2 separate regions of the Homo sapiens genome follow, and region 1 is linked to region 2. The links come from fine-mapping of genetic effects on gene expression. A gene starts in region 2. The other region holds a variant in brackets. All regions are shown on one strand. Distances are from middle to middle.

Region 1 (12,387 bases), 23 kb after region 2:
GTACATTTCTCAGTGTTACCCCGCAGTGAGTGGTGAAGCTGGGATCTTAATCTGGGCCTGCTAGATTCCAGAGACCATGCTCTTTACCTTGCTTCCTTGCATCTGTTTACAAATCTGTGGTCTCCAATGGAGGAGATTTGGAGGGCAGTGGCTTCATTGACGGAATCAGGGAAAGAGTGAATGATGGTCCTGGGAACTCGTTGCAAGTACGTCTGTTGGGTGCAGGTTAAACAGCTGACAAAGTAGGAATGAAGCAATGGGAGATGGAAGTACCTGCTCATGATACATATTCACTGACCTGCACCCTCCACCCCCACACTCATACCTCTTCTGGCTTTGTCATGGCACCCAGAAACCTTCTTTTAGCATCTTGGATGTGGGGCTGTGGTGGAGACATTCACAGCATGGCTGTCTCCTGCATGCCTGATCCCTGACCTCTTAGTCTCCTATTCCAAGATTCCAGCTGGGTTTAGTTGTTAAGAGCCAGTTAAGCAGTTTTTGGAAGCTCCTGCATGAGCCTCACCTGAGTGTGAGACTTTGGGCATCAGATACAGGACTGCCCTTTGGGCTTGTGGCCTAGAGTGTGGACTTTATTGCTCCAGAGGAGAGGCAGAGATCCCTCATTAGGAAAATCATGTACCTCCTTATGGACCCCTAGTCTGATGTAGAGTATGTTACTTTTCCTTTACACCAGATGGCTTGCTGGGGATGTTCCTGAAACGCCTCTCGTCTCAGCTTATCCTGCTGCAAGCATGGACTTCCCACCTCTGGAAAATGTTTTATGATGCTCGGAAGCCCCGGAGTCAGATTAAGAATGAGATCAACATTGACACCCTGGCCAGAGATGAATTCAACCTCCAGAAGATGATGGTGATGGTAACAGCCTCAGGCAAGGTGAGTGGGGTTTAAGCTCCAGTTACTGAACCTTTTCAAATTCTGAGGGTGAGGAACAAAAAGCCTTCAGTGAGGGATAACACTGGTTCTAGTTTTCAAGGACAGACTCAGTTCTTTGGTTTCTCTTTCTAGTAGTGAGCCAAGTATTTGTTTATCTTGCAGCTTTTTGGCATTGAGAGCAGCTCTGGCACCATCCTGTGGAAACAGTATCTACCCAATGTCAAGCCAGACTCCTCCTTTAAACTGATGGTCCAGAGAACTACTGCTCATTTCCCCCATCCCCCACAGTGCACCCTGCTGGTGAAGGACAAGGTGAGGCATCCAGCTCTGACTTGAGCCAGACTCAGTGTGGCTTTTTTGCTATTTTGTAACTTAAATTGCTCCTAGGCCCTTGGAATTGTGTGAGTTAATGAGGAACATTCAGGGGTTAGAACTCTGTTTCTTCTAGTTTCATGCATGGGTGGAGGAACCATCCAGCACTGATGTGGAATTGTTTAGAAAGTGGGTGTGACTTCACCAGCTATGTAGGGAGCCAGCTCTCCTCTTTTCTAAACATTGGCTGTTGGTTGCTGAGTGGCTATTTTCTCTTCTCTCTTTGAGGAAGAGCAGGACACAAAGATATTTTTGTGTCTTCCCAGAATTAGAATGGATTTTTGTGTATTCATTCTAGCATAGAAGGCGGGCTTGGTAGACACTTTCCTGGAACGGCTGCCTGGTGCGATCTCGGCTCACTGCAGCCTCCACCTCCCAGGTTCAAGCAATTCTTGTGCCTCAGCCTCCCGAGTAGCTGGGATTACAGGCACACGCCATCATGCCCGGCTGATTTTTGTATGTTTAGTAGAGACAGGGTCTCACCATGTTGGCCAGGCTGGTCTCAAACTCCTGACCTTAGATGATCCACCTGCCTCGGCCTCCCAAAGTACTGGGATTACAGGTGTGAGCCACCACGCCCGGCCAGGTTGCTGAATTGTTACTTGACTTTTTTATTAGTTCTTGTTTAGAACTGGCAGAGCAGCCAGGCGCGGTGGCTCACGCTTATAATCTCAGCACTTTGGGAGGCCAAGGAGGGCGGATTGCTTGAGTCCAGGAGTTCGAGACCAGCCTGGGCAACATGGTGAAACCCCTCTCTACAAAAAATAAAAACAGAATTAGCCACGTGTGGTGGTTTGTGCCTGTAGTCCCAGCTACTTGGGAGGTTGAGGTGGGAGGATCACTTGAACCTGGGAGGCAGAGGTTGCAGTGAGCCTTGATCATGCCACTGTACTTCCAGCTTGGGTGATAGAGAGAGACCCTGTCTCAAACGAAAAAGAACTGGCAGAGACAGTTTGACTTTTTTCTTTGTGACGTTAGCCTAGGGGACTATTCACCTACAGCCAAGAACTTATTTTCCACAAAGAGGGCAAAGACTAGAGAACCCCCACAGTTGTTGAGCTGGAGTCCCAGCTCTTCAGGTCTATCCCTAGGATTTGCAGTCTTTTCTTGTTGGTGGAGCCTGACAGTTTGCTCATTTTAGGAGTCGGGAATGAGTTCTCTGTATGTCTTCAATCCCATTTTTGGGAAGTGGAGTCAGGTAGCTCCCCCAGTGCTGAAGCGCCCCATCTTGCAGTCCTTGCTTCTCCCAGTCATGGATCAAGACTACGCCAAGGTGTTGCTGTTGATAGATGATGAATACAAGGTACTGTCTTCAGAGGGGATGGAGAACATGCTAGCGGAGTCCGGTTTGGGGCCAGGTGGTCAAACACAGCGGCCCGGAGATGGAGTGCTCTCTGCACCCAGCACGTGTTTGGGCTCTAAGGCCATCCCGAAGAGAAATGATGGCTGTGTCTGCATTTGTGAAAACTCAGGTTCTTAACAGAACTGAATGTAAACCCTAAACTGAGTTCAAATCAACTGATTTGCAGTTTTATTCTTAAGGCTCTCTTTGATGGGGAAATTTCCTAACTCTTTCCTTGGGCTCTCTGGGTTTTTCAAGGTCACAGCTTTTCCAGCCACTCGGAATGTCTTGCGACAGCTACATGAGCTTGCCCCTTCCATCTTCTTCTATTTGGTGGATGCAGAGCAGGGACGGCTGTGTGGATATCGGCTTCGAAAGGTAGGAAGGCATGTCCTGGCACAACCCTTTGTGGATGAGATGCAGGTGTTTCCTGGCCATTTGGCTAAGAAGTGAATTATGCTACTCATTCTACTGTAAACTTAGATTAGCATAATCCTGATGTCTGATACAAAGTCAATCATTTGTTCATATTTGTTGGGCAGCTACTACATGGCAGATACGGTTCTAGGTGCTGTGGATGGAGTGGTGCACAGTAGAACAAATCTCTGCCCTTGTGGAGCTTTCATTCCACATTCTTTTTCTTTTTTTTTTTGAGATGGAGTCTTGCACTGTCGCCCGGGCTGGAGTGCAGTGGTGCGATCTCGGCTCACTGCAACCTCTGCCTCCTTGGTTCAAGCGATTCTCCTGCCTCAGACACCCAAGTAGCTGGGATTACAGGCGTGCGCCACCGCGCCCGGCTAATTTTTTGTATTTTTAGTAGAGACAGGGCTTTGCTGTGTTGGCCAGGATGGTCTCAAACTCCTGACCTTGTGATCCACCTGCCTCAGCCTCCCAAAGTGCTGGGATTACAGGCGTGAGCCACCGCGCCTGGCCCCATTATTTTTCTATAGCAGAGAGATGGGACTTTTTTTCCATTCTTGGGAGGGTAGAAGGTAGGAATGTGGGTTGAGTAATAAGTTGTACTTTTATATGAAGATGATGTTGACCAACTCGTGATGGAATGTGTGCTTTGAATTTTATTTCTAGAAAGGGGGTCAGTTTGCTTTAATCCTCACATACTTGAGACCAACTCTTGTAAACAGTAATACACGCTGGCTGTGAAGTCCAGCTCTGAAGTTCACGAGGGGCTGGCATGGCCTTGTTAGCAGGACTGTTTGGAGAAGTACTCTGTGGTGTGTACTCACAAACAGCTCTCCCATCCTGTCCTGTAAGGCCTTTTGAGAGGCATAGAGTTTAACCAATTTGCTAGATTGGAAGTCTAGGTTTGTCACTTACTAACTTTGTGACCTTGGGCTCTGGTCTTCTGTTTTCTTATCTGTAAAATAAGGTGATAAGTACCTGTCTCATAAGGTTGTTGTGAGAATTCAACACATAAATCACATAAAACTGCCTGGCACATGGTAAATGCCATCTGAGTTGGAGGTGCTGTTGTTTTGAAAATGCAGCGCCCTTTTGTGACATTTGTAACAGCTAACCTTAGCATAAACAGCACTGGAAATGGTCTGCCCAGAAGACACATCCTTTACCCTTGTGAATGAAAACATAAATAAATAAAATCATCCTTCTGAGTTAATAAAAAGAGGACCTTGAAAGAGACAGTTTTGTAGATTCAGGGGAGTGAACTGGAGTGTGGGTGTCATGAATCTGGAGTCCTGAGGACATCATCTGAGTGAACAATGACCAAGGAAGACAAAGGAGGCAGAGCTGTCTGTGGGAAGTGAGCCAGCTGTGTGCGCGAGTCCGGGACCACAAGGGAGTGTGCTGCCTTTGCCCTCACTTGGTGACCTTCCTCTCTGGGGATGTTTTAGTGAGTTCTTATGTTTTCAAAGAAGGTTGTGGCAATGAAGGCTTATTATTAATAATTTTCACTATTTTAAAAATTTAGGTAATACATTGAGTATATTCTCATTGTAAAAGAGTCCATTGATACAGAGAGGTGAACAAGCAAAATGTGAACAGACCCTTGTAGCCCCATTCCCAGCGGTCTTCCCCTCCCCAGGTGGAAAGCCTGTCAGCAGTTTGCTGTGCCTCTTTCTACTGTCCTTGTGTATTTATGATTCC[C/A]TATCAACAGCTGTGTGGACACACGTGTGTGGCTCATACTTTATTTATTTTTTTTTAGAGACAGAGTCTCGCTCTGTCACCCAGGCTGGAGTGCAGGGGCGCAGTCTCAGCTCACTGCAACCTCTGCCTCCTGGTTTCAAGCGATTCTCCTGCCTCAGCTTCCCAAGACTACATGTGCACGCCACCATGCCTGGCTAATTTTTGTATTTTCAGTAGAGACGGGGTTTCACCATGTTGACCAGGCTGGTCTCAAACTCCTGACCTCAAGTGATCCTCCCGCCTCGGGCTCCGAAAGTGCTGGGATTACAGGTGTGAGCCACCACGCCCGGCCCATTTTATTTTTTTTTCTCATTCACATGCAATTGACCTATATTTATTCTTATGAAATTTGCTTTTTTTCATTTAATGGGTTTTCTACCTCATTGTTTTGTCAACTTCAGTTTTTTATTACAGAAAAATATTGACAAAAGTGCAAAATCATGAGGTATGGCTCAGTGAACCCTCACCAAGGGAATACACTTGTGTACCTGGTGACCACTTCAGGAAACAGAATAGCACCAGCTCCTAGAAGGCCCTTGTGCCCTTTGCCAGTAACTACCTCCTGTCTCCACCCCCAAGGGCTCCGCATAATTCCATAGGATGGATGTATAATAATGTATTTAACCATGAGTGTTTATTGGTTGGTTTCCTATGACCATAAACAATCATACACGAAATGTTTTGAGCTCCCTGTTAGCTTAGACATTCACTGCTGGCCCCAGTATACAGGGATCTTGGAGTTTAGTAATAAATGGTAAATTTTCCTTGCATATTTCCTACTCAGATAAACAACGGGATACTATTGAGCGTTCGCCTCCTTTCCTACTGGCTTTATTATCTTTTTTTTTTTTTTTTTGAGCCGGAGTTTCGCTCTTGTTGCCCAGGCTGGAGTGCAATGGTGCAGTCTCGGCTCACTGCAACCTCCACCTCCTGGGTTCAAGTGATTCTCTTGCCTCAGCCTCCTGAGTACCTGGGATTAAAAGCATGCGCCACCACACCCGGCTAATTTTGCATTTTTAGTAGAGATGTGGTTTCTCTATGTTGGTCAGGCTGGTCTCAAACTCCCGACCTCAGGTGATCCACCTGCCTCGGCCTCCCGAAGTGCTGGGATTACAGGTGTGAGCCACCACGCCCGGTCTAGTATCTATCTTAATCAAACCGAGAGTTCTGAAATTTCTTCATAAACTAGATCTCTATTGCTGTTTTTCTGGTTTATTTTTTGTTTTGAGTCTTGCTCTGTCACTCAGGCTGGAGTGCAGTGGCGTGATCTCAGCTCACTGCAGCCTCTGCCTCAGCCTCCCGAGTGGCTAGGATTATAGGTGCCTGCCACCACATCTGGCTAATTTTTTGTATGTTTAGTAGAGATGGGGTTTGGCCATGTTGGCCAGGTTGGTCTTGAACTCCTGACCTCAAGTGATCCGCCCGCCTTGGCCTCCCAAAGTGCTGGGATTACAAGAATGAGCCACTGCTCCTGGCTCATTTTTCTAGTTCTGATCTCTATTCCTTCCTGCACAAAGGCCTCAAATAATGAACTGTAGGATGTGTCTAACTCCAGCTGTTTCAGTTCTAAGTGTACCCTCCTGATTACAGGCTTTTTTGCCCCTGCCCTAGGATCTCACCACTGAGCTGAGTTGGGAGCTGACCATTCCCCCAGAAGTACAGCGGATCGTCAAGGTGAAGGGGAAACGCAGCAGTGAGCACGTTCATTCCCAGGGCCGTGTGATGGGGGACCGCAGTGTGCTCTACAAGGTACATACAGCCAGCTGTCTGGTCTACAGCAAGGGCTTTCGAATCAGGAAAACAAGGGCTTCAAGTCTGGCTGTAGGACTTGGTACATATATGACCTTGAGTAAGTCATTTAATCCCTTTGAGCCTTAATTTTTGTTTGTGAAATGGGGATAATATACCCTCCTCCTGGGCTTGTTGTGATGATCACATGGGATGTTCATGTCTAGCCCAGTGCCTAGCATATGGTAAGTAAGCAACAGATGTTAGCTCTTATTTTTTTGACTTTTTTTTTGTTTGTTTGTTTCCTGTGACAGAGTCTTGCTCTGTTGCCCAGGCTGGAGTGCAGTGATGCAGTCATGGCTCACTGCAGCTTCGTCCTCCTGGGCTTATGCAATCCTTTCACCTCAGTCTCCCAAGTAATTGGAACCACAGGCACATGTCATGCTAATTTTTTAAAAACGGCTGGGCTTGGTGGCTCATGCCAGTAATCCCAGCATTTTGAGAGGTCGAGGTGGGTGGATTACTTGAGTCCAGGAGTTTGAGGCCAGCTTGGGCAACATGGCTGAAACCTTGTCTTTACCACCCCCAAAAAAAAAAAACAAAAAAAACAATTAGCTGGGCATGGTGGTGCATGCCTGTGGTCTCAGCTACTCGGGAGGCTGAGGTAGGAGGATCACCTGAGCCTGGGGAGGTTGAGGCTACAGTGAGCTGCAATTGTGCCGCTGCACTCCAGCCTGGGTGACAGAGTGAGACCCTGTCTCCAAACAAACAAAAAAAATTTTTTTTAAATTTTTTATTTTTGTAGAAGATAGAGATCAACCTAGGAAACATAGTAAAACCCTGTCTTCAAAAAAAAATTTTTTTTTAATTTTTTATTTTTATATTGACAGGGTCTCACTATGTTGCCTAGGTTGGTCTCTATCTCCTGGCCTCAAGCAGTTCTCTTACCTTAGCCTCCCAAAGTGTTGAGGTTAGAGACTTGAGCCACTGCGCCTAGCCCAGCTCTTATTACTAGTGGTAGTACTGATAGAGCATTCTGGGGTTAAACCATAGTCGAGCCATCAGAAACTCCATCTCTGTGATCCAACACTCTAGTTAGTGTTAAAGAGAGGGAGATTAAGGTGACTAGTGGGCTGCAAAACTGTTATGGGAGAGAATGTAATGATAGTAGTAATGCACATTAATTACACCCTCTGGTACAGCAGAGACTGAATTGGAGGGGGTGTCATAGAATAGAGATCACGGAACTTGACGGTAAAGCTGGATCACTAAGCATGAGCCAGTGCAACACAGTGCAAGCCTCTAGTTTGACTGTTAAGACTTGGCTCTGCCGTGGCCTAGCTGTTCATCTCTTAGGCTGCCTGAGCTTCAATTTTCCCCAGTATAATGGGGATAATAGCACCAACGTCAGAGGATTGTTTTGAAGATTAATGATAACATGTAAAGTGATTAGAATAGTGCCTGCCACATACTTAACATTATTATTAGTGCTATTGACTCTTTTTTTTTTTTTTTGAGACAGGGTCTTGCCATGTTGCCCAGGCTGGAGTGCAGTGGTGTGATCACAGCTCACTGCAGCTTTGACCTCCCGGGCTTAAGCAGTCCTCCCATCTCAGCCTCCTAAGCAGCTGGGACAACAGGTGCATGTCACCATGGCTTATTTTCTTTTCTTTCTTTTCTTTTTTTTTGAGATGGAGTCTTGCTCTTTCACCAGGCTGGAGTGCAGTGGCACGATCTTGGCTCACTGCAACCTCCACGTCCCAGGTTCAAGAGATTCTCCTGCCTCAGCCTCCCGAGTAGCTGGGACTACAAGCGCGCACCACCATGCCCAGCTAAATTTTGTATTTTTAGAGATGGGGTTTCACCATGTTGGCCAGGATGGTCTTGATCTCTTGATCTCGTGATCTGCCCGCCTTGGCCTCCCTAAGTGCTGGGATTACAGGCGGGAGCCACCGTGCCCAGGCACTTATTTTATTTTCTTTAGAGATGGGGTCTTGCTGTGTTGTTCAGATTGGTCTTAAACTCCTGGGCTCAAGCAATCCTCCCATCTTGGCCTCCCAAAGTGTTAGGATTACAGGCATGAGCCACCGCACCCGGCCAGCAGCAAGCAGTTTTTGAGTGCTAGCTGGATGCAGGCACTCATTTAGACACTGGGATATAAAATGGGCAAAACAGACAAAACTTCCTGACCTCGTGAGGCTTTCATCATAGTTGGGTGAGGCTAATAATAAAGAAAATAAATAGGTAAATTAGATAGTATATTAGAAAGTGACCAGTTCTATAGAGAAAAATAAAGCCGGGAAGAGGGAAAGCAGGTACAGTGTAAGTCGGGTGGCTAAGGAGGGGCTTAGTGAGAAAGTGGCACGGAGTGAGTGGACTTGAGTGAGGAAGTGAGTTGTGTGGGTAGCTGCGGGGAGAGCCTTCCAGAGAGAAAAGTCAAAGTGCTCCTGGTATGTGTGAGAAACAGCAAAGAAGACCAGGTAACTAGAAGATGATGAGTGAGGAGGCATGTCAGGCCTGCTGAGGGCAGAGGGCAACAGGGCCAGATCACAGGCCACCACCGTGGCCTTCACTTTGGAGCACGGTGAAGAGCCACTGGGAAGTTTTCAGCAGAGGAGTGACATCAGTGACTGAGATTCCACAGGCTCATTTGACCTAGATTAGACTGTAGAGGGGTGAGGAGGAAAGCAGACCATTTAGGCTGTGGGGTCATCCAGGTGCTGATGGTGGCTGGAGCTGGGCTGGTAGCATGGAGGTGGGAAGGAGGGATCAGGTTCTGGGTACTTTTGAAGGTAGAGCCAAGAGCAGGTATATGTGTGTTACAGAGAAAGGAGTCAAGGATAACTCGAGGCTTTAGGTCTGAGCCACTGATGTATGGAGTCGTGACTGGCTGGGGAGGAGAGAGGAGCAGATTTTAGGCAGGAGTTAGAACAGTTCAGCTTGGGCCATGTTAAGTTTCAGATGAAACATCTGAGAAAAGATACTGAGATAATTTCTTAGTGAAGTCTGGAGTTCAAAGGAGTATCTGGTTTGGATATATACATTGGGCATTGCCAACATCCATAAATGGTGTTCAAGCCATGAGATTGGCTTGAGATCACCACGAGGGTAAGTGTGACGGAAATGCTCAAGGCTTGAGAGCTTTCTGATGTGTTCCACCATGAAGAAACTGGGGAGATGTGGAAGAACCTCCAAAAGAGACTGAGAAGGAGAGGCCAGTAAAGTAGAAGGAGTGCTGGGCAGGGATGTTCTGGAAGCCAGGTGAGAAAATGTCGCAAGGAGGTAGTGATCACCTGCGTCACGTGGTACTAGTGGGTCAAGTAAGTTGAGGGCCAAGACTTAGCCACTGGATTTAGCGATGGGGAGGGGGGTGGTGACCCTCAGAAGAAAAATATCACTGCAGCATTTGTCCCTAGGTCAATGAGTGGGCAGACCTGGATTTTGTCTTGGGTTACCATTTGCTATCTGTGACTTGAAAAGCTGCTTAACTACTTTGGGACTTTTCTGCAAAATGTGGACCATAATAGCTACTCTGCAAGACTGTTTAAGGGATTAGATAAAATACAAGGTACCTGGCATGGCACCCAGTACCCAATGCACATAAAACAAGTGCAGTGATGAGAAATTCCAAACAGGAAGCTCTTTTCACCAGAAACCCTGATTCCTCTGCCAGGCTGGAGAGCTCCAGGTTGGTCTCACAGCACAGGAATGGAGTGTGTGATGAGTCGTCGTGGTTCTAAGGGAGGTTTTCTCTCTCTCTCCAGAGCCTGAACCCCAACCTGCTGGCCGTGGTGACAGAGAGCACAGACGCGCACCATGAGCGCACCTTTATTGGCATCTTCCTCATTGATGGCGTCACTGGGCGTATCATTCACTCCTCTGTGCAGAAGAAAGCCAAAGGCCCTGTCCATATCGTGCATTCAGAGAACTGGGTGGTGGTAAGCGGTCACTACCAGGGACCCAAGGTAGCTCCAGAGGTCTCCCTGCCTCCTGAGTCCTTTCCAGAAACCCAGTTGCTGCTTTGGTTTTCTTAGGATCTCAAATTCCCTGGATGGCAGCAAAGCGTGCCGGTTAGGGCACTGGGCTCAGGAATCAGATTGCCTAGGTTTAATCTTACCTCTTCCGTTTCCTGACTGTATAACCTTGAACTAGTTATGTACACGCTCTGTGTTGCATCATTGTTAAAATAGGGATAATAACAGTCACCTTCAGTCTAGCAAAGAACAATGCCTGGCACCTAGTAATGATTCAAAGGTTAGCTACTATTATGGCTTCTAAGACTCTTGAGAATTTCCTTTGTTTTGTGGTGAACTTTCGATAGCCTAGATAAAACTACTTTGAAAGTTAGTAAACTTGATAGTAAGGAAGAAAAGTGAGGTGCTAGTTGATGGTTCTCCTTCATGGATCTGTAGCTAATTAGAGGGGTGCCTTCCAGTGCAATTTCCCTTTCCAGTTGAAGCAGCTGCTAAGCCCTGAGCTGCCACCTCCTATCCCTGCAGTACCAGTACTGGAACACCAAGGCTCGGCGCAACGAGTTTACCGTACTGGAGCTCTATGAGGGCACTGAGCAATACAACGCCACCGCCTTCAGCTCCCTGGACCGCCCCCAGCTGCCCCAGGTCCTCCAGCAGTCCTATATCTTCCCGTCCTCCATCAGTGCCATGGAGGCCACCATCACCGAACGGGGCATCACCAGCCGACACCTGCTGAGTGAGTGACTGGGGAGCCTCTGGGATGGCTGGGTTCCCTTGGGCAACCACACTTAAGGACAGAGCAAGGGACACATTGCTGGCAGAGCCTTGTTGAACCACCTGTAAGGGAAAGGTGGTGAGGAGGGCTATATATCGGTGGAAAAAGTTTCTTAGTTCATCTTTGCCACCTATGAAGGTGACCACTTCTCTCTCAGTTCTCATCTTTTTTTTGTTTTTCGAGACAGGGTCTCACTCTGTCATCCAGGCTGGAGTGCAGTGGTGTGATCATGACTCACTGCAGCCTCAACCTCCTGAGCTCACCTGGCTAATTAAAAAAATTTTTTTTGGTAGAGACAGGGATTTGCCATGTTGCCCAGGCTGATCTAGACTCCTGGGCTCATGTGATCCTCCTGCCTTGGCCTCCTGAAGTGTTGGGATTACAGGTGTGAGCCATCGTGCCTGGCTGCCTGGCCTTCAGTCCTCATTTCTGATATACCACCTCTCTATTTGGCATTTTCACCTAGCTCAAAAAGTCAGTTCCTGATAGCATTGTTAACATAGCTAGCCTGTGCTGACAGCTTGCAGAAACTGGCAGGGTCTATTGCCCAGGCTGGAGTGCAGTGGCACGATCTTGGCTCACTGCAACCTCCGCCTCCTGGGTTCAAGTGATCCTCCTCCTCAGCCTCCCAAGTAGTTAACAGGCGTGCACCACCACGCCCGGCTAATTTTTGTATTTTTAGTAGAGATGGGGTTTCGCCATGTTGGCCAGGCTGGTCTTGAACTCCTGACCTCAAGTGATCCGCCTGCCTTGGCCTCCCAAAGTGTTGGGATTATATGTGTGAGCCACTGCGCCAGCCCTAAAATCTCATCCTTATGTAACCTAAGCCCAGGACTTAGGACTTAGTGGTTAACAGGTTCCTGTGTTTAGTTGATTTTACCGAAGATGTTTGGGACTCTCAGATCTGATGGGCACTTGGCATTGCTGTTGCTTTTTTTTTTTTTTTTTTGAGACAGAGTCTTGCTCTGTCACCCAGGCTGGAGTGCAGTGGTGCGATCTCAGCTCACTGCAACTTCAGCCTCCCTGGTTCAAGTGATTCTCCTGCCTCAGTCTGCTGAGTAGCTGGGACTACAGGTGCGTGCCACTGTGCCCAGCTCATTTTTAAATTTTTGGTAGAGACGGAGTTTCACCATGTTGGCCAG
Region 2 (8,000 bases):
CACTATGGAAGTTTTTGCTGGTGCTGCTGCTGGAGGAAAAAGGCCTGGATTGGCAGCTTGGAGATTTTTTTTTTTTCCCCACTAGTATGTTCCCCTGGCCAACAGTCCTATCCCTGGCCAACAGTCCTATACCTACCTTTATAAACCAAACAATTGCAAGCTCTAGAAAAGAACAACCTCTTACCTCTTCTATCAGGTTTTGTTTCAATTCCAAGCCTTTCTTGGCAGTTTTGGTTAAGGAGACTAATAAAAACAAAAAGGAGAGAGATGATGAGAGACCAATCTAAATGCACTGGAGACTTATTTTCTTCTCCCCTTTGGCAGAGAGCACTCAGCTGGATGCAGCCATTCTGAAAAAAGGCAGCAAGGCCTTTGTGGCCATCATTTCTGGCACACAAAGCCATTCCCAGGGCCCATGGAATGCCTACTCATTAGCATTCCTGGGCCTGAAGATCCCTGGATATAACTCCTGCTATTTAGACAAACTAGGCCTTTCTTAGCTCCTAAGGCTGACCCAAAAAACTTGATTGCAGTGTGGGGGTGGAGGCTGTTCCTGCTGCTAGAAGTGCTCTCAGTGGCAGACCTCACCTGCTGGCTGAGGCAGGCCCCTGTTTTTTGTTTTTTTTTTGACATGGGGTCTCACTCTGTCACCCAGGCTGGACTGCAATGGCACGATCTGGGCTCACTGCAACTTTGAGCTCCTAGGCTCAGGCAATCCTCCCACACAGGACTACAGGCACACACCACCATGGCCTGCTAATTTTGGCTGGGACCACAGAAATGCACCACCATGCCCAGGTGAGTTTTGTATTTTTTGCAGAGATGGCTTTTGCCATGTTGCCCAGGTTGGTCTCGAACTCCTGGGCTCAAGAGATCTGCCTACCTCAGTCTCCCAAAGTGTTGGAATCATAGGTGTGAGCCACCATGCCTGGCCCCTTGCTGCTCTTGACCATGATGCAGAGGCCACTCTAGCTGGCCTATGCTGTGCAACCATGAGGCTGGGGACTGAATCTCCTGGTATGTATCTGCACCCCAGTATTGCAATTTGGACCCAAAGACGCAGCAACACCTCTCTGGGGAGGAACATGTACCTCTACTGTAAAAATGGCTGGGGCCCAATTTGCCCTCTACCCACAGAGTTTGGCATTTGCCAGACCTGACCCAGGCCCCTCCACAGAATCAAATCGTTCCAGAAACACTTAACAGAACTCCAACTGCAAAGCCCCGGGCGCCTTCACAAAGGGACCCAGGCCTCTCTTCTTTAACCTGCCCGCACTCAGCCCCTCTTAACTAGGTACCACACAGACAAAGACAATGACATCAGTCAATGGTAAGTGGAGCAGAGGAGGGCAAACGAAATATAGCGGGCCACTTCCCATCATTTCCACTGTTATACCTTTGGCTCAAGCCAGCATCACCCTGTCTTGGATTAATGCTGGTCTCACTGCTTCCATTCCTGCCCTCTGCCCTGTCTTCCCCAACTATTCTCACCAAGGCAACCAGAGTGACCCTTCATAAGTAAAGGTAAATCACATGGGTCCTCTGCTACTCACTTCACCTGGGCAGGAAAGCCAATGCCTTGCCAAGGCCGAGGAAGTCCTGCCCTCTCTGCCTAACTCCCTCCCCAAACTCTATTTGGCTCCTTCTGCTCCAGCCTCACTGGCCTCTTGTCCCAAACACGTCATATCTGCTCCCATTTCAGAGCCTTTTCACTTCAGGTTCCCTCTACTTGGAACAGCATTCTCCCAGATAATTCCACAGCTGCTCAATTCCACAGGTTGCTCGCTTCCTTTCTTTATTTTCTGCTCATTTGTCACTTCATCAGTGAGACCTTTCCCGACCACACTATACAAAATATCAACATCTCTTCACCCCATTTTCAATCTGATTTTTAGCATTTTGCGGAATATGTTTCTCCTAAAACGTTAGGCTCGATAAGAAATAGGCTTTCCTTGTGACTGCTGTATCCTCTAACGCCTAGAAAGTGCCAGACCCCTAAATATTTTTGAATATTCCAGGGAGCCGGGTTAAGAGAGAGGCCACCACAGCAAAGGTGGTCAAAAACGGTCTCTTAAGAGGTGCGCAAGTCGGGTGTAGTGGCTCACGCCTGTAATCCCAGCACTCAGGGAGGGTGGTTGGAGCCCAGGTGTTCGAGACCAGCTTGGCAACACACTGAGTCTTCTCTATAAAAAATAAACAAAAAAAACCTAGCTGGGTGTGGTGGCGTGCGCCTGTAGTCTCAGCTACTCGGGAGGTTGAGGTGGGAGGATCGCTTAAGCCAAGGAGGTCAAGGCTGCAGTGACTTATTTTATTTATTTATTTTTGAGACGGAGTCTCGCTCTGTCGTGCCCAGGCTGCAGTACAGTGGAGCGATCTCGGCTCATTGCAACCTCCGCCTCCCGGATTCAAGCGATTCTCCCGCCTCAGTCTCCCAAGTAGCTGGGATTACAGGCACCTGCCACCATGCCCATCTAATTTTTAGTATTTTTAGTAGAAAAGGGGTTTCACCATATTGGCCAGGCTGGTCGGGAACTCCCGACCTCAGATGATTCGCCCGCCTCGGCCTCCCAGAGTGCTGGGATTACAGGCGTGAGCCACCGCATCCGGCCTGCAGTGTTACGATCGCGCCACTGCACTCCAGCCTGGGCAACAGAGCGAGACCCTGTCTCAGAGGGATCCTATTAACTGACAACTAAGAAGGCGCAAACCATACGAAGATGTAAGCATGCCAGGCAGAAACAACCGCAGACACACAACGCCAGACACGGGAACAAACCTGTGCTGAAAGAAGGGAAAGGCAGCCAGGGTGGCGGGAGCGCAGGAAGATGAGAAAGGGCCGAAGTTGGGAAAAGTGGGCCGAAACGGCAGCAGGCATAGCCGGGGGCGGTGTTCAGGAGCTGCCTCCCGACCCAGTTGGCCTTGCAAGAGCACCTGAAACTAGGCAAAACGAGTCTCCGCTCCCCAGACCCGACCGGGCGTCAGCCACCTCTGGCGGTTTTACAGCCCCGAAGCCCCCATTCCAGCTCGCAGCGAGGCAGCGGAACACCTCGAGGATGTCCTGGCGTTCCAATCTGCGCCCCCGCCGCCCCGAAGCCCTCACCGCAGGCTGGGTAGCCAGCCCACGGAGCTCCCCCCAGGGTCCCGACTCCCCCTTCGCCCACCTTTCTTGTCGCGCTTGGATTTGGGCATCGCGCTGAATCCACGTGCGGCGGAAGACGGTGCACCCCGTTAGGACCCCGGCGGCGCGGGGGACTCTGGGACGGCCCTCGGGGGCTGCCCCTCGCGTGTGCCTGACCCAATGTGCACTGCAGCCTGCCTCTCCCTGCCAAGCCGCCGCCTGCGCTTTCTCCCGCGCCTGTAGGGCAACTTCCCGTGTGCCGAGGCAGTCCCTGAATCCCGAGCGTCCCGTCCGACCGAGGGCCTCGCGCGCTATCCCAGCTCTGTGGTCCCGCGGAGGCGGAGCCCGCGGCGCGGTGCATGCCGGGACGGCGGTGGGTGGTGCATGCGCTCGCATCATGGCGGCTGAGTGGGCTTCTCGTTTCTGGCTTTGGGCTACGCTGCTGATTCCTGCGGCCGCGGTCTACGAAGACCAAGTGGGCAAGTTTGATTGGTGCGTACGTGTGGAACATATTCGAGAGATAAGTGGCTGTTTCCCCAGTACCTGTCTCCTACCTGCTAAAGGTTGTCACTTAACAGGATTGGCCGCATAATTTGCAGGACCCAGTACAAAATGAAAACGTGGGGCCCCTTGTTAAAAAATTATTAAGGATTTAAAGTCGTTGGAAGCAGAGCCTTAAACCAAGTGTTAGGGGTCATTCTAAGCTGATCCTTGCGTGTAAGCCGGCCCTGCCATCCAGGAATGCTTGGGGTGCCGGTCAGAGATCACTGATCCCGTCCTCCCTCGTCAGGTTCGATTTTTTTGACTGTGAGGTTTCTGGTCTACCAGGTGTCAGAGGTCGCCAAGCTGTCAGTGAACTTTAATTCCTACTCGAATTGGTGTCTTGTAGGCAAGTGAACAGGAGCTTTCGTCTTAAAAGTCCTAAACTGAGTCCTTTTCCCCTCTCATCAACCTAGTCTGGCCCTGGGCTCACAGCAGGATTGCCCAAAACACTAAGCAGCTAGAATATGCCATTCACTCATTCATTCATTCACCCACCCACGTCTTCCTTAAGGCCCTGGAGTAGCTTGCTTTTGTTTGAATTTTACTAGTTAAGACTTGTGTGATCTTGGGGAAAGTGACTTAACCACTCTGTGCCTTGGTTTCTTTGTCTGTAGAATGGGTTTACTAACAGTCCGTTATCTCTTACAGTACTTGTGAGAATGAATGAGACAATCCCATTAAATTACTTAGCACAATGCCTGGCTCATTGAATGCAGTCATTAAGCGTTATCTGTTATTATTGCTATTTACACTTTATTCTTCAGGGCCCAGGTCAGATTTCTCCTCCTCTGAAGTATTTTCTGTCTTGGAAAAGTTGATTCGCATATATGTTGAGTACCTGTTATGCCAGACAGTGTGACAAATAAAACATGTTACATTTTTAATGATGTGCACAACTGTTCACAATGTCATATGTGTATGTTACACATATATATCGGGTGATATGTGTATCTAATTTTGCAGAATACTTGATATATGCAATTTTCTTAATTTTATTTTCATGAATGAATGAATGAATGAATGGCATTTCCTAACTGCTTAGTGTCTTGGGCAGCTCTGCTCTGAGCCCAGGGCCAGGTTAGGCTGATGAGGGGGGAAAAGGACTCTGTTTAAGACTTTTTTTTTTTTTTTTTTTTTTTTTTTTTGAGACAGTTTTGCTCTTGTTGCCCAGGCTGGAGTGTAATGGCGCGATCTCATGGCTCACCACAACCTCCGCCTCTGGGGTTCAAGCGATTCTCCTGCCTCAGCCTCCCGAGTAGCTGGGATTACAGGCATGCGCCACCACACCCAGCTAATTTTTGTATTTTTGGTAGAGACAGGGTTTCTCCATGTTGGTCAGGCTGGTCTCAAACTCCCGATCTCAGGTAATCCACCCGCCTAGGCCTCCCAAAGTGTTGGAATTACAGGTGGGAGCCACTGCGCCCAGCCAAGACTTTTTAAAATTTTTTGAGACAGGGACTCATTCTGTAGCCCAGGCTGGAGTACAGTACTATCATGGCTCACTGCAGCTTTGACCTTGCAGGTTCAAGTGACCCTCCCAGCTCAGCCTCCTGAGTAGCTGGGACTACTGGTGCACACCTCTCCAGTTTCTTTGTATTTTTTGTAGAGACGGGGTTTTGCCATGTTGCCCAGGCTGGTCTTGAACACCTGGGCTCAAGCAATCTGGCTGCCTCGGCCTCCCAAAGTGCTGGGATTACAGGTGTGAGCCACTGCACCTGGCCTACAGTTTTCAGATTGAAAAATAAATGAAGACATACAGGTATGCATCACTTAATGATGGGAATACATCCTGAGAAATGCCCTCTTGTGCAAACGTTGTAGCATGTACTTATGTAAATCTAGATGGTTTAGCCTACTACACACCTAGGCTATATGGTACAGCCTATTCTTCCTAGGCTACAAACCTGTACGGCATGTTACTTTACTGAAAACTGTAGGCAATTGTAACACAATGGTAAATATTTGTGTATCTAAACATAGAAAATGTATGGTAAAAATAGGATATGAAAGATAAAAAATGGTACACTGGTATAGGGCACTTAACATGAATGTATCTTGCAGAACTAGGAGTTGTTCTGGGGTTAGTCAGTAAGTGGTTGGTGAGTAAATGTAAAGGCTTAGGACATTACTGTACACTACTGTGGACTTTATAAATACTGTGCATTTAGACTATACTAAATTTATAAAATTTCTTCAATAATAAGTTAACCTTAGCTTAATGTAACTTTTTTACTTTACAAACATTTTATTTTTTTAATTTTTGACTTTTGTAATAATACTTAGTATAAAACACAGACTTTACAGCTGTACAAAAATATATTTTTAAAATTTATTTTTGACATGGGATCTTGCTATGTTCCCCAGGCAGATATTGAACTCCTGGACTCAAGCAAGCCTCCTGCCTCAGCCTCCCTAGCAACTGGGATTACAGGCATATGCTACCATGCCTGACTTAATAATATTTTTCTTATATCTTTATTCTATAAGCTTTTTCCTACAATACTAAAATTTTTTTTTTCAGTCTTAAACTATTTTGTTAAAAACTAAGACACAGGCCGGGCGCAGTGGCTAACATCTGTAATCCTAGCACTTTGGGAGGCTGAGGTGGGTGGATGGCTTGAGTCCAGGAGTTCAAGACCAGCTTGGGGCTGGGCGTGGTGGCTCACGCCTATAATCCCAGCACTTTGGGAGGCCGAGGCGGGTGGATCACGAAGTCAAGAGGTCAAGACCATCGTGGCCAACATGGTGAAACCCCGTCTCTCCTAAAAATACGAAAATTAGCTGGGCGTGGTGGCACACGCCTGTAGTCCCAGCTACTTGGGAGGCTGAGGCAGGAGAATTACTTGAACCTGGGAGACGGAGGTTGCAGTGAGTTGAGATCACGCCACTGCACTCAGCCTGGCAACAGAGCGAGACTCCATCTCAGAAACAAAACAAAACAAAACAAAAAACAGGTTGGGCAATATGGCGAAACCCCATTTCTGCAAAGCATACAAAAATTAGCCGGGCATGGTGGTGGGTGCCTGTAGTCCCAGCTACTCGGGAGGCTGAGGTGGGAGGATCACCTAAGCCTGGGAGGTCGTGGCTGTAGTGAGCTGTGATGGTGCCTCTGTACTCCAGTCTGGGTGACAGAGTAAGAGCATCTCAAAAAACAAGCAAACAAAAAACAAACTAAGACACAAACACATTAGCCTGGGCCTAAATAGGGTCAGGATCATCAATATCACTGTCTTCCACCTCCACATACTGTCTTACTGGCAGGTTTTCAGGAGCAGTAACACCCATGGAGCTATCATCTGTGATAACAATGCCTGTTTCTGGAATACCTCTTTTTTTTTTTGGGACAGAGTCTTACTCTGTCGCTCAGCCTGGAGTGAAGTGGCATGATCTCAGCTCACTACAACCTCCACCTCCCGGGTTCAAGTGATTCTCATGTCTCAGCCTCCCAAGTAGCTGGGACTGTGGTGCACAGCACTATGCCTGGCTAATTTTTGTATTTTTAGTAGAAATGGGGTTTCACCATGTTGGCCAGGCTGTTCTTGAACTCCTGACCTCAGGTGATCTGCTCGCCTCCGCCTCCCAAAGTGCTGGGATTATAGGCATGAGCCACTGCGGCCAGCTTGGAATACCTCTTGAAGCACCTGCATGAGACTATTTTACAGTTAATTTTCTTTTAATAAGTAGAAGGAGTACTCTAACCATAAAAAGTAGATACGTAAACCAGTAACACAGTCATTTATTATCATTGTCAAGTATTATGTAGTATACATTATTGAATATGCTGTACTTTTATACAGCTGGCAGTACAGTGGGTTTGTTTACACCACCTTCACCGCAAACGTGATTAATGCATTCGACTACAATGTTATAGCAGCTACAATGTTACTAGGTTATAGGAATTTTTCAGCTCCATTATACTCTTGTGTGACCACCACTGTATATGCTGTATATGCGATCAATCATTGACTGAAACATTGTTTTGCAGTGCATGACTGTATAGTAAAACGTTAAAAGTATATGTACAAAGCTGGGCACAATGGCATGCACCTGAAATCCCAGCTACTTGGGAGGCTGAGATGGGAGTATTACTTGAGCCCAGGAGTTCAATCCAGCCTAGGCAGCACAGTGAGATCCCATCTCAAATAATAAAAAGTGTATCTATAGTGGTGGTTGTATTAGTTTTCTCAGGCTGCTATAATGAAATACCATAGACTAGGTGGCTTAAACAATAGAAATTGATATTCTCACAGTTCTGGAGGCTGGAAATTCAAGATCAAGGCATTGGCAGGTTTTGTTTCCTCTGAGGCCTCGCTCATTGGCTTGCAAAAGGCTGCCTTCT

Evidence for each region.
Region 1: its variant is fine-mapped to the expression of EMC1 in tibial artery (GTEx, PIP 0.96).

What each region holds. Positions count from the first base shown.
Region 1 is chr1:19,221,443-19,233,829 of GRCh38, reverse strand. EMC1 (ER membrane protein complex subunit 1) reads left to right here. Exons shown (of 23, transcript NM_015047.3): 14 at 695-894; 15 at 1,057-1,206; 16 at 2,408-2,569; 17 at 2,867-2,986; 18 at 6,380-6,517; 19 at 10,261-10,434; 20 at 10,996-11,206. The region is part of intron 1 of EMC1-AS1 (EMC1 antisense RNA 1); the gene reads right to left. Among named protein-coding and RNA genes, the nearest start is that of EMC1-AS1, 17 kb to the right of the region's middle. The variant C/A (reference allele first, on the strand shown) is at 4,730.
Region 2 is chr1:19,247,025-19,255,024 of GRCh38, reverse strand. It overlaps EMC1 (ER membrane protein complex subunit 1), which reads left to right and starts at 3,501. Exons shown (of 23, transcript NM_015047.3): 1 at 3,501-3,610. The coding sequence starts at 3,516. It overlaps MRTO4 (MRT4 homolog, ribosome maturation factor), which reads right to left and starts at 3,220. Exons shown (of 8, transcript NM_016183.4): 1 at 3,162-3,220; 2 at 185-243. The coding sequence starts at 3,189. RefSeq lists enhancers at 265-764, 765-1,266, 3,083-3,588 and a silencer at 828-973.